Linked DNA regions of Homo sapiens. The protein of the gene in region 2 interacts with the protein of the main gene of each other region in a pairwise test. Each region holds a gene or a part of one and is shown on either strand. Other genes may lie near its edges.

Region 1 (3,652 bases), on a different chromosome or scaffold from region 2:
AACCGGGCATCCACGTGTAAAAATATGAATCTAAGCACAGACCTTCCACCCTCTACAAGAATTAATTCAAAGTGGACTATAAACCTAAATGTAAAATGCGAAACTATAAAACTCATAAATGATAATATAGGAGAAAATCTAGATGACCTTGAATATGCTTACAACTTTTTGTATACAATACCAAAGGGTACAATCCATGAAAGAAATAATAAACTGGATTTTATTAACATTGAAAACTTCTACTCTGTGAAAGGCAATGTCAACAGAATAAGACAAGCCACAGACTGGGAGAAAATATCTGCAAAAGATGCATCTAATAAACAGTTGTTATCCAAAACAGACAAAGAATCTTAAAATTCAACAACAAGAAAATAAGGCCGGGCGCAGTGGCTCACACCTGTAATCCCAGCACTTTGGGAGGCTGAGGCGGGTGGATCACAAGGTCAGGAGTTTGAGACCAGCCTGGCCAACATAGTGAAACCCCGCCTCTATTAAAAATACAAAAATTAGCCGGGGCATGGTGGCGCATGCCTGTAGTCCCAGCTACTCAGGAGGCTGAGGCAGGAGGATCGCTTGAACCCGGGAAGCAGAGGTTGCGGTGAGCTGAGATCGGGCCACTGCACTCCAGCCTGGAAGACAGAGCGAGACTCCTTCTCAAAAAATAAATAAATAAATAAGTAACCCCACTAAATATGGGCAAAAAACCTGAACAGCCACCTCACTAAAGAAGATGCAAAGGTAGCAGATAAGCATATGAGAAGATTCTCCACATCTTATGTCACTAGGGAAATGCAAATTAAAACAAAAATGGGATATCACTGCACAGCTACTAGAATGGCCAACATCCAGAACACTGACAATACCAAATGCTGATGAGAATGTGGAACACCTATTCATTGCTGGTGGACATGCAAAACAGTATAGCCATTTTGGAAGACAGTTTGGCAGTTTCTTCCAAAACTCAACACACTCTTACCATATGATCCAGCAATTGCAATCCTTGGTATCTTCCCAAATGAATTCAGAATTTGTGTTTACACAAAAACCTACACAGGCTTTTTTTTTTTTTTTTTTTTTTTTTTTTGAGGCAGAGTCTCACTCTGTCACTCAGGCTGGAGTGCAGTGGTGCGATCTCAGCTGGCTGCAACCTCCGCCTCCCGGGTTCAAGCGATTCTCCTGCCTTAGCCTCCCGAGTAGCTGGGATTACAAGCACCTGCCACCATGCCTGGCTAATTTTTGTATTTTTAGTAGAAGTGGGGTTTCACCATGTTAGCGATAGCCAGGCTGGTCTCGAACTCCTAACCTCAAGTGATCCACTCACCTCGGCCTCCCAAAGTGCTGGGATTACAGGTGTGAGCCACTGCGCCCAGCTGAGTGGCTTTATACAGAATGATACGTAATGCCAAAACTTGGAAGCAACCAAGATGTCCTTCGGTAGGTGAATAAAATAAACAGTAGTACATCCAGACACTGGAATATTATTCAGTACTTAAAAGAAATGAGCTATCAAGCCATGAAAAGAGATGGAGGAAACTTCAGTGCCATTACTGAGTGAGAGAAGGCAATCTGAAAAGGCTACATATTGTATGATTCCAGCTATGTGACACTCTGGAAAAGGCAAAACAAAAAGTCAGTCATTGCTAGGGGTTCAGAGGGGAAGGAGCAATGAAGAGGCAGAATGCAGAGGATTTTTAGGGCAGTGAAACTTCTCTATTATGCTATGCTATGCTATGCTATGCTATGCTATGCTATGCTATGCTATGCTATGCTATGCTATGCTATGCTATGCTATGCTAATGCTATGCTATGCTATACTATACTATGCTATAGCGGTGGAAACATGTTATTACGCATAGAATGTTTAACACCAAGAGTGAACCCTCATGTAAACTGTAGACTTTGGGTCATAATGATGTGTCAATGTAAGGCTCATCGGTTGTAAAAAAACAATGTACCATTTTGGTGGAGGAAGTTGATAATGGGGAGTCTATGCATGTGGGGCAAGGGGCTATATGGGAGATCTCTGGCCTTCCTTCTCCATTTTGCCATGAACCTAAAACTGCTATTACATATATAGTTGCTATTCTCTCTATATATAACTGCTATTATATATTATATATAATATATATATAATATATAACTGCTTATATATATATATGTCTTTAAAAACAATAAAACAAACAAACAAACAAAAACACTCCCAGAGTACTTTGCCTATAGACCTTCTTCTATTCATAAGTGTTTTTACCTCCACTCCCATCTCATTCTATCTGTATCTCGCTCTACTTAACCTGAGCTATACTGAATTTGCATTCGGTTTGGACAAGTCTTAGTTCCTCTTTTGGCAGATCATCTTCACATTTCCATCAACATGCAGCACAGGTGGAAAAAAAGGGGCCAATAACTGGATCTGCCTGGGGAATCTGGAAGCCCAAGAGGAGCTGCATTTTGGGAAGGAGCCAGGCTAGGGGCTTAAACTCTGTACTTGGGGGTAGGGTTGCAACACTGGCTCGAAGGGGAAGAAAGGGATTATCCTCAACCTTTCACACATCCAGACTCTGGGAGATGCGCAGGCTTAGCTCCCTGGCAGGGCTACCAGTGAAGGCAGGGAGAAGGGCAGAGGCTTGGAGGCCACAGCCACAGGCCATAGAACAGAAGGAGCAGCTCCAGGCATCCAGCTGGTGGAGGCCACCTGCCCTGAGTGCTGTGCGCCACTCTTCACAGCCAGCTGTGCTGCTGCTACCCATCCCAGTCTCACAGGTCTTGACCTGGAGATACATTTGCAACATTGATTATAGAGGCTCAAGTTAATGTTATTTTAGATTAGAGTTTCCCAAACTTCAGTTGTGCCATGTTCAGGGTTTCAACGTCTCAGTGCAGTAGTAGGTGCGGGCACACACACCTGTGATCCATGTCACCCAGGGCTGCCGTACTTCTGAACAGGTCAGACAGAAACAGTTACTAAGACATTGAGGGTATGCCCAGGTCATGTGCAAGGACTGTATAAAGGTGTCAAAAAACTTCCTGCCACTTACTTGAGGCTCATCCTAAGCAATAAAAATGTTGGAATTGCCTGGACATGTGGCTCATGCCTGTAATCCCAACACTTTGGGAGGCCAAGACAGGAAGATCACTTGAGACCAGCAGTTAGAGACCAGCCTGGGCAATACAGTGAGACCCCAATCACTAAAAAAAGAAAAAAAAAATTAGCTGGGCATGGTAGTGCACATGTGTGGTCCCAGCTATTTAGGAGGCTGAGGCAGGAGGATAACTTGGGCCCAGGAGGTTAAGGCTGCAGTGAGCCAAGATTGCACCACTGCACTCCTGCCTGTGTGACACAGCAAGATCCTGTCTGTTAAAAAAAAAAAAAAAAAAAAAAGGAATCACAGGTCTGATAAGTTGTTATGCTTTCTTTCTTTTTTCTTTTCTTTTTTTTTTTTTTGAGACAGAGTCTCAAAAGTGCAGTGGCACGATCTCCGCTCACCACAACCTCTGCCTCCCAGGTTCAAGCAACTCTCCTGCCTCAGCCTCCTGAGTAGCTGGGACTACAGGCGTACACCACCACGCCTAGCTAATTTTTGTATTTTTAGTAGAGACAGGGTTTCACTATGTTGGCCAGGATGGTCTGCAACCCCTGACCTCGTGATCCGCC
Region 2 (3,652 bases):
ATAATTTGACAAATACATGACTGAAATATTTCTACCCACTTCCATCACTTCTATCCAGAGTAGAATCTGCATTGGCTAGCTACATGTTCCAGTGGAAAAATGTTTAGAGATAAGAGATTGTATTTTTTTAAAAAGTTTTAAAATATTAATTTTTTTAAAAAAATTTTTTGAAATGGAGTCTTGCTCTGTCTCCCAGGCTAGAGTGCAGTGGTGTGATCTCAGCTCACTGCAACCTCCATTTCCTGGGTTCAAGCAATTTTCCTGTCTCATCCTCCCAAGTAGCTGGGATTACAGGCACTTGCCACCACGCCTGGCTAATTTTTGCATTTTTTATAGAGATGGGGTTTTGCCATGTAGGCCAGGCTAGTCTCGAACTCCTAAACTCAGGTGATCTGCCCTCCTCGGCCTCCCAAAGTGCTGGGATTATAGACGTGAGCCACTATGCCCAGCCAAGAGATTGTAAATGTGTTATAAAAATTGGTTAAAATCTTGATGAGTCAGTGGGGTCCTCTCAAGAAATCCTCCTGAAGTCTAACCAGGGGGACTTAGAATAGTGAAAAATTGGGACAAAATGCTTACAGGAAGCCATAGAGCAGCCTTCAGAAGCAAGGAGTCAGGCCTCTGGGGAAGACATATGCCCTTTCCATTGGTTGCTACTTTTTCCCCCACTTCTTTCTATCTATATCTTAACTTATAGGGCCACTTTGTATTCTACCCCCTCCAAGTTTTTTCTGGCAATTCTGACTGGAAGTTTTCCTTTTTCCCCTTTGAAGAGTACTTTATAATAATTTAAGAAGTATTTTTGAGCACATACTGCGGGCACCCTGCTCCAGACACGGAGGACACATGTTGAACAAGTGTATTCCTGATCTCTAGGAGTGGATGCACTGCCACTCATCACTAAGAGTCTCTGTGGGCTGGGCACAGTGGCTCATGCCTGTAATCCCAGCACTTTGGGAGGCTGAGGTGGGCAGATCATGAGGTTGAGAGTTCGAGAACAGCCTGGCCAACATGGTGAAACCCTATCTCTACTAAAAACACAAAAATTAGCAGGGCATGGTGGCACTCACCTGTAATATCAGCTACTCAGGAGGCTGAGGCAGGAGAATTGCTTGAACCTGGTTGGCGGAGGTTGCAGTGGGCCATGATCAAGCCACTGCACTCCAGCCTGGGCGACACAGCAAGACTCCATCTCAACAACAACAAACAAAACAAAACAAACAAATAACAACAACAACAACAACAACAAAAAGAGTCTCTTTGGCCTCTCTTGGGCTAAGTGACTCGTGTGTTTGTCTTGCCTCTCCTTTAGGCAGGGTTTACTCTTCTATTCCCCAGAGCTTCTAAAGATCCTCTTTAGCTAAGAATTTGTTATCAGAGACCCCAGGGTTACCAAGTTGTTCAGAGGACATACAAATAGTGACTAAGGAACTTTAAAATGAGTCTTCCATTACACTTCTCAAGTTCTTACTAGCATCAATCCCCAGCCACCTCATGAACATCAGAGATTGTCCTAGATGATAAGCAAGTACTGCAAATACAATAGAAATGGATCACAAAGTAAAATTAGAAATCTTAGAGAAGGTACAGGACTTCTTGAAGTCCGTGAAAGTGAGTTTAGAGAACAATTTGAATTCACACCCAAAATTGTAGACAATTGAGGACCTAACAGAGTCATATTAGTTATTACCAGCAGGAGAGAGAAAATCAGTAAGGATGGTGGCATGATGGGTACTTCCCAAGTGAATGATTGGAATGTCAATGAATGAAGAAAGGACCTTGGGAAATATGAAAAACTTTTGAATATTTTACAAAAGTCAGTATGAAGTGAGAGATGTTAAATGATGCCATGATTCAATTTTGTCAGAAAAATTATGCCAAAAAATCCACACTTAATTCACACCTTGTTCATTTAAAAATGAGAGCATAATTGCTATTTTAATTTAATTTTGTGAAATCTAAGATAGTTTTTCATTTTACAATTCTTAGTTTCTATGATAAAATTCCATCCAAATGCCCTGACCCCAATTATACTATGCTATTTTTGTCACCTTAAAAATGTGGATTCACTTTAAGTGGACTTTTTCTGGTATTAATTATCCTGATATAGAAAGAACTTTCAGTAATTCAGTAAAGCGATGGATTAATCAACATCATTTTTCCAGAACCAATGACTAAGAACATTACAGGCAGAAAGGGGACAACTGGCTTTATTGACTCTTAGGCGGAACACAAGGGTCCATAGAACCAGCCAGATTTCTCTGGGAACGGAGTTGCCTAGTCCAGCTAGGAGGTAATTTTGGGATAAGCATGCTTAAGACCTTAAAAGGGAACTCTTAAGGCTCCAAAGGAAGTTGCTTACCCACAAAGCACCAGACCGCAAACCGGATCCATGTGATGGTGGAGAGCTTTAGCATGAGATAGATGTTCACCAGCATGGCAAAGGCAGGCACAAAGGGGAGGCAAGGGGCCATGTAGGGCAGCTTCTTGGGGTTCTCTGGCTGCTGCAGGATCACAAACACCAGGGTGCTGATCAGCAGCACCATCAGAACAACCAGAAGGATGGCCCACCAGCTCTGCTCTGAGATGTAGTCAGAACCAAAGATGATGAAGGAGCAGAAGATGAACATGAGGATGAAGAGCAGGAGCACGCAGATGGTCACCGTGTGCCCCGTCGCTGCTGTGGGCCGGTCCATTTTGCCTGGAAGGCCCAGCCGGATTCTCATGGTGTAATAATGAGGCCCAATCAGCTTCTTTAACTTGATGAGATAAATATTTTCGGATTCATCAGCTTCTATGCCTGTGGTCATGTCCACGGTGCCGTAATTGGGGTGGTTGACGTTGTAGGTTGACTTGTCTGATTTCCCTATGAGCATCTCATTGTCTCCCAAGGATGGTAAGTTCTTGGCCCCACATGTGTTGGTGGCTGGGCCAGAAAACTCATCCCCCTCACTCACAGGAGAACAAGCTTCCTTCTCACAGTCAGCCAGAATGCCCTCCTTCTTCTTGGTGTGCTCCTCAGACAAGAACTTGACAAAACCATCAATGTCACTCTCAGGTTGGTATCGAAGGAGCAAGACACAGACAGAGACCAAGGTGTAGGCCAGGAGCGTGCCGATAGACATCATCTCTATCAGGTCTCTCAAGCTGACCAACAGTGCGAGGAGCGCTGCCAGGAACCCCGACACGATGCAGGCCACCACTGGTGTCTCTGTGTAGGAGCTGACGTGAGCCAGGAACCTGGAGGGGCCGGGCAAGCAGAGGGTTAATGGTGAGCTACAGTGACCGATTCCAGTGCAGCCAACATAGGGAGCTAGAACTATCAATAGGCTGGTGTGATTAACTCCTCCTGGTCCTGCTCCACCAATTTACTTCTGCATTCACTACTTTAAATCCAGCTGCTATTCCTACCCCAGGATTTGGTATATAATTAAAAAAGAATTCACTTTAAATCTTTGATTTCTTTTTTTTTTTTTTTTTTGGTGAGATGGTGTCTCACTCTGCTTACTCTGTCCCCCAGGCTGGAGTGCAGTGGCGTGATCTCAGCTCACTGCAACCTCCACCTCCTGGGTTCAAGTGATTCTCCTGCCTCAGCCTCCCGAGTAGCTGGGATTACAGGCATGCACCACTACACCCGGCTAATTTTTGTATT
Region 3 (3,752 bases), on a different chromosome or scaffold from region 2:
CTGGGTATATACCCAAAGGATTATAAATCATGCTACTATAAAGACACATGCACACGTATGTTTATTGCAGCACTATTCACAATAGCAAAGACTTGGAACCAACCCAAATGTCCATCAGTGATAGACTGGATTAAGAAAATGTGGCACATATACACCGTGGAATACTATGCAGCCATAAAAAAGGATGAGTTCGTGTCCTTTGTAGGGACATGGATGAAGCTGGAAACCATCATTCTCAGCAAACTATCACAAGGACAGAAAACCAAACACCGCATGTTCTCACTGATAGGTGGGAATTGAACAATGACAACACTTGGACACAGGGTGGGGAACATCACACACAGGGGCCTGTCGTGGGGTGGGGGGAATGAGTTAATGGGTGCAGCACACCAACATGGCACATGTATACATATATAACAAACCAGCACGTTGTGCATATGTACCCTAGAACTTAAAGTATAATTTTTTTAAAAAAATGTGACATGCTCTACTCTGTAGCCTTCCTTCTCCCCAGATCTCCCTCAATGACATTGTTTGGGGCAAAATCATTAGACTTATTAAGGTTAAAATTGATTCCATCTCCAAATTCCAAAACAAAAATGTTAAGAGATTGTCAGTGATGACATAGTAATAACATCAATATTCTATGAATAGTTTAGTGTGAAGAAGGCTGGTAATGTTTTGACTATTTATATCACCATGTTATTCACCAGAATGGAATCTAGCCTTTATCACTGTAGCTAAATAATCTAGGTATGATCTGAGGAAACAGTAAATCTGAACAGCCTTTTTGTTACAGGATTTTAGTTACAGGATTTAACTAATTTCATTATTTTTTTTTCGCTATTTTTCTTGGTCTAACACAGTTTTTTCTAAGGTCCACAGTTTATTAATAATCCCTTTCGTAAATGTAATGCAATTACCTCTAACACCTCCAAAAACATTCAGAAATGCTCTCTTTGCTCCAGTTAAAAAAATGCCATGGGAGTTCCAAGAATAGGAAACATCAACCAGGGTATTTAGCACTAGATTGACAGAACTTGGCTCAGACCTGCATTACAAAAGCAAGTGTTCCGACTGCGGTTTTGCATTGTGCTGAAGTGCTTTCGGATAATTTTTTTAAAAATGAAATTTACCAAATAATGCTGTAAGAACTCTGTTCTTTATAAGAACTCTCAGGTTATCTTCAGACAACAAAAGCCAATGAGAAAGTCAAGATCACCTTTTCAAATCTCATGCTCTCCTGAATCATAATGGGGAACGCAGAGGGAAAGCTGTTGGTCTCCAGGTACTGATTCATGAGGTAGACCCCGAGGTACACATCTTGTTTGCCAGGCAGGAACACTCCTGGGCAAGAAATCTTAAAAAGAAAGAAAACAACAAACAAGGGAGAGAAAACAGACTTTGCTTTGTTTTGTTACACGGGGCTCTATTTCTCTTAAGCTCCTACAGACACTGACATTTTCCCCATCACCTCACTCCCTCACCTGTACCTCCCAACGCCAACATCCTCCCCTCTGCTCTCCTCACATTGGAAATTCCAACTCCCTCCCACGTCTCCACCAGGTGTCACAATCGCGCTCTCGCCGGCTCCTCTCCCCGCCCCTCCGGGATGGTAGTGCGGAAGCGGAAGAGGCTGCAGGGCCGGGAAGCCTCTGTTTGGTCCGGCCAGGTCCCGGGATCCGGGCCGCCAGCTGCGATGCCAAGTCCCCGGAGGAGCATGGAGGGACGGCCGCTGGGCGTCTCCGCTTCGAGCAGCAGCAGCAGCCCCGGCAGCCCAGCCCATGGCGGCGGTGGCGGCGGCAGCAGGTTTGAGTTCCAGTCCCTGCTCAGCAGCCGCGCCACGGCCGTGGACCCCACCTGCGCCCGGCTCCGTGCATCGGAGAGCCCAGTTCACCGCCGCGGCTCCTTCCCCCTGGCCGCGGCGGGCCCCTCGCAGTCGCCCGCGCCTCCGCTGCCCGAGGAGGACCGCATGGACTTGAACCCGTCCTTCCTGGGCATCGCCCTGCGCTCCCTGCTGGCCATCGACCTGTGGCTGTCCAAGAAGCTGGGGGTGTGCGCGGGAGAGAGCTCGTCGTGGGGCAGCGTGCGACCCCTTATGAAGCTGCTGGAGATCTCGGGACACGGCATCCCCTGGCTGCTGGGCACCCTCTACTGCCTGTGCAGGAGCGACAGCTGGGCCGGGCGCGAGGTGCTGATGAACCTGCTCTTCGCCCTGCTGTTGGACCTGCTGCTGGTGGCCTTGATCAAAGGGCTGGTCCGCAGGCGCCGCCCGGCCCACAACCAGATGGACATGTTTGTCACTCTCTCGGTGGACAAGTACTCCTTCCCCTCGGGCCATGCCACAAGGGCCGCCCTGATGTCGAGGTTCATCCTGAACCACCTGGTGCTGGCCATTCCACTGAGGGTGCTGGTGGTTCTGTGGGCCTTCGTCTTGGGCCTATCCAGGGTCATGCTGGGGCGGCACAATGTCACCGACGTAGCTTTTGGCTTTTTTCTGGGCTACATGCAGTACAGCATCGTGGACTATTGCTGGCTCTCACCCCATAATGCTCCGGTCCTCTTTTTACTGTGGAGTCAACGATGACACCATCTCATTGATTATGGCACCAGGAAGTCTGAAGGTTTCCACATTCGATGATGTCAACCTAAACCAGCAGCCATCCCGCTTGTCCCTCTTAGGCATTTCAGGCTTCCTTTGGGATTTCAGGTGTCCCATGATCTTGATGTGCTGCTAGGCTGGAGCACACACTGGCCATTACTGAACACAGCCATATTAGGGAAAGCAAAAAAACCCAAAAAATCCTCTATTGTATATTTATTCAACAACTGTTTATGTTTCCAGGACAACTGCAAAGAAAACAAGCTGAGGTGGTTATACTGTTGCTGTTAAAAGTTGGTATCAGTAAGATTTGTGTTTTGTGATAATCCCTAAATCAACATACCACTTGTAAACTGAACTTCGAGAAAGAAACATGATGTTCATTCTGTAAATATACATGCAGACAGGTCATGTACTAATCCTAGTCCTTTTCCTGAGGTAGATTTTAAACAGTATTTTTAAAGTCCAAGACATAGGTTTTTCTAGTTTATTCCCTGAAGATCTGTTGCCACAGTTGGGAGATTTCTTCTTAATCCTGATTTTCTTGGTAAGCTTTTTTACTTTATTATCTCTATAATTTATTATCTCTATCCATATTTGTGGATCGGGTAGTGGGAAAAGAGATTATAATACTTGTCTTTCTCTCCTCTCCCTCCATCCCTCAAAAGATCTTTATGCATTTCCCACTACTCCCTTACTGTCTTTTAGCATTCAGAGAAAAAGCCAACTTGCTTAAAGAGGAATCACTTAAAAGGTAGGCATATCTAAGATGCTCATAGAAGAGGAAGAATGGGACATGGCCCCATGCTTATTTTTGTTTACAACGTAACATGGCATGAGAGAGGGCAGAGAAACTAAGTTGCTGGGGAAAGTTAGAGGAACTGAAAGTTTGGGAATAGGCTGACCACATATTATGCCAGTGACCAGTATGACAGGAGATGGGGCCCTGCTGCCAGTCATCTCCACTGAATAAAGAATAATGCTCCTCTTTCAGGGTAATAAAGTGGGGAAAAGGAACGTCTTCTCAATGCAAGAACATAAGCTTTCTCGTATATACCTGTATGCTACAGTTTTTCACATGGAATTCCGTTTTCTGAGGTACAGCACATTTTAGGTAACAGTATTTAACTTGAAATTCATCATGGGAGTC

The links.
Region 1: the proteins of SLC7A14 (region 2) and NINJ2 interact in binary tests that used the Homo sapiens proteins (3 or more experiments, as listed by UniProt).
Region 3: the proteins of SLC7A14 (region 2) and PLPP6 interact in binary tests that used the Homo sapiens proteins (3 or more experiments, as listed by UniProt).

Annotation. Positions count from the first base shown.
Region 1 is NC_000012.12:656,933-660,584, forward strand, and holds part of NINJ2 (ninjurin-2), read right to left. Parts: intron 1-3,652. UniProt on the Homo sapiens protein: Its role in unclear. In contrast to NINJ1 paralog, does not mediate plasma membrane rupture (cytolysis) downstream of necroptotic and pyroptotic programmed cell death.
Region 2 is NC_000003.12:170,477,927-170,481,578, forward strand, and holds part of SLC7A14 (solute carrier family 7 member 14), read right to left. Parts: intron 3,241-3,652; coding exon 2,363-3,240; intron 1-2,362. UniProt on the Homo sapiens protein: Imports 4-aminobutanoate (GABA) into lysosomes. May act as a GABA sensor that regulates mTORC2-dependent INS signaling and gluconeogenesis. The transport mechanism and substrate selectivity remain to be elucidated.
Region 3 is NC_000009.12:4,660,677-4,664,428, forward strand, and holds the start of PLPP6 (polyisoprenoid diphosphate/phosphate phosphohydrolase PLPP6), read left to right. Parts: upstream 1-1,617; 5' UTR 1,618-1,699; coding exon 1,700-2,587; 3' UTR 2,588-3,752. Other genes in the region: SPATA6L (spermatogenesis associated 6-like protein), read right to left, coding at 1,223-1,360. UniProt on the Homo sapiens protein: Magnesium-independent polyisoprenoid diphosphatase that catalyzes the sequential dephosphorylation of presqualene, farnesyl, geranyl and geranylgeranyl diphosphates.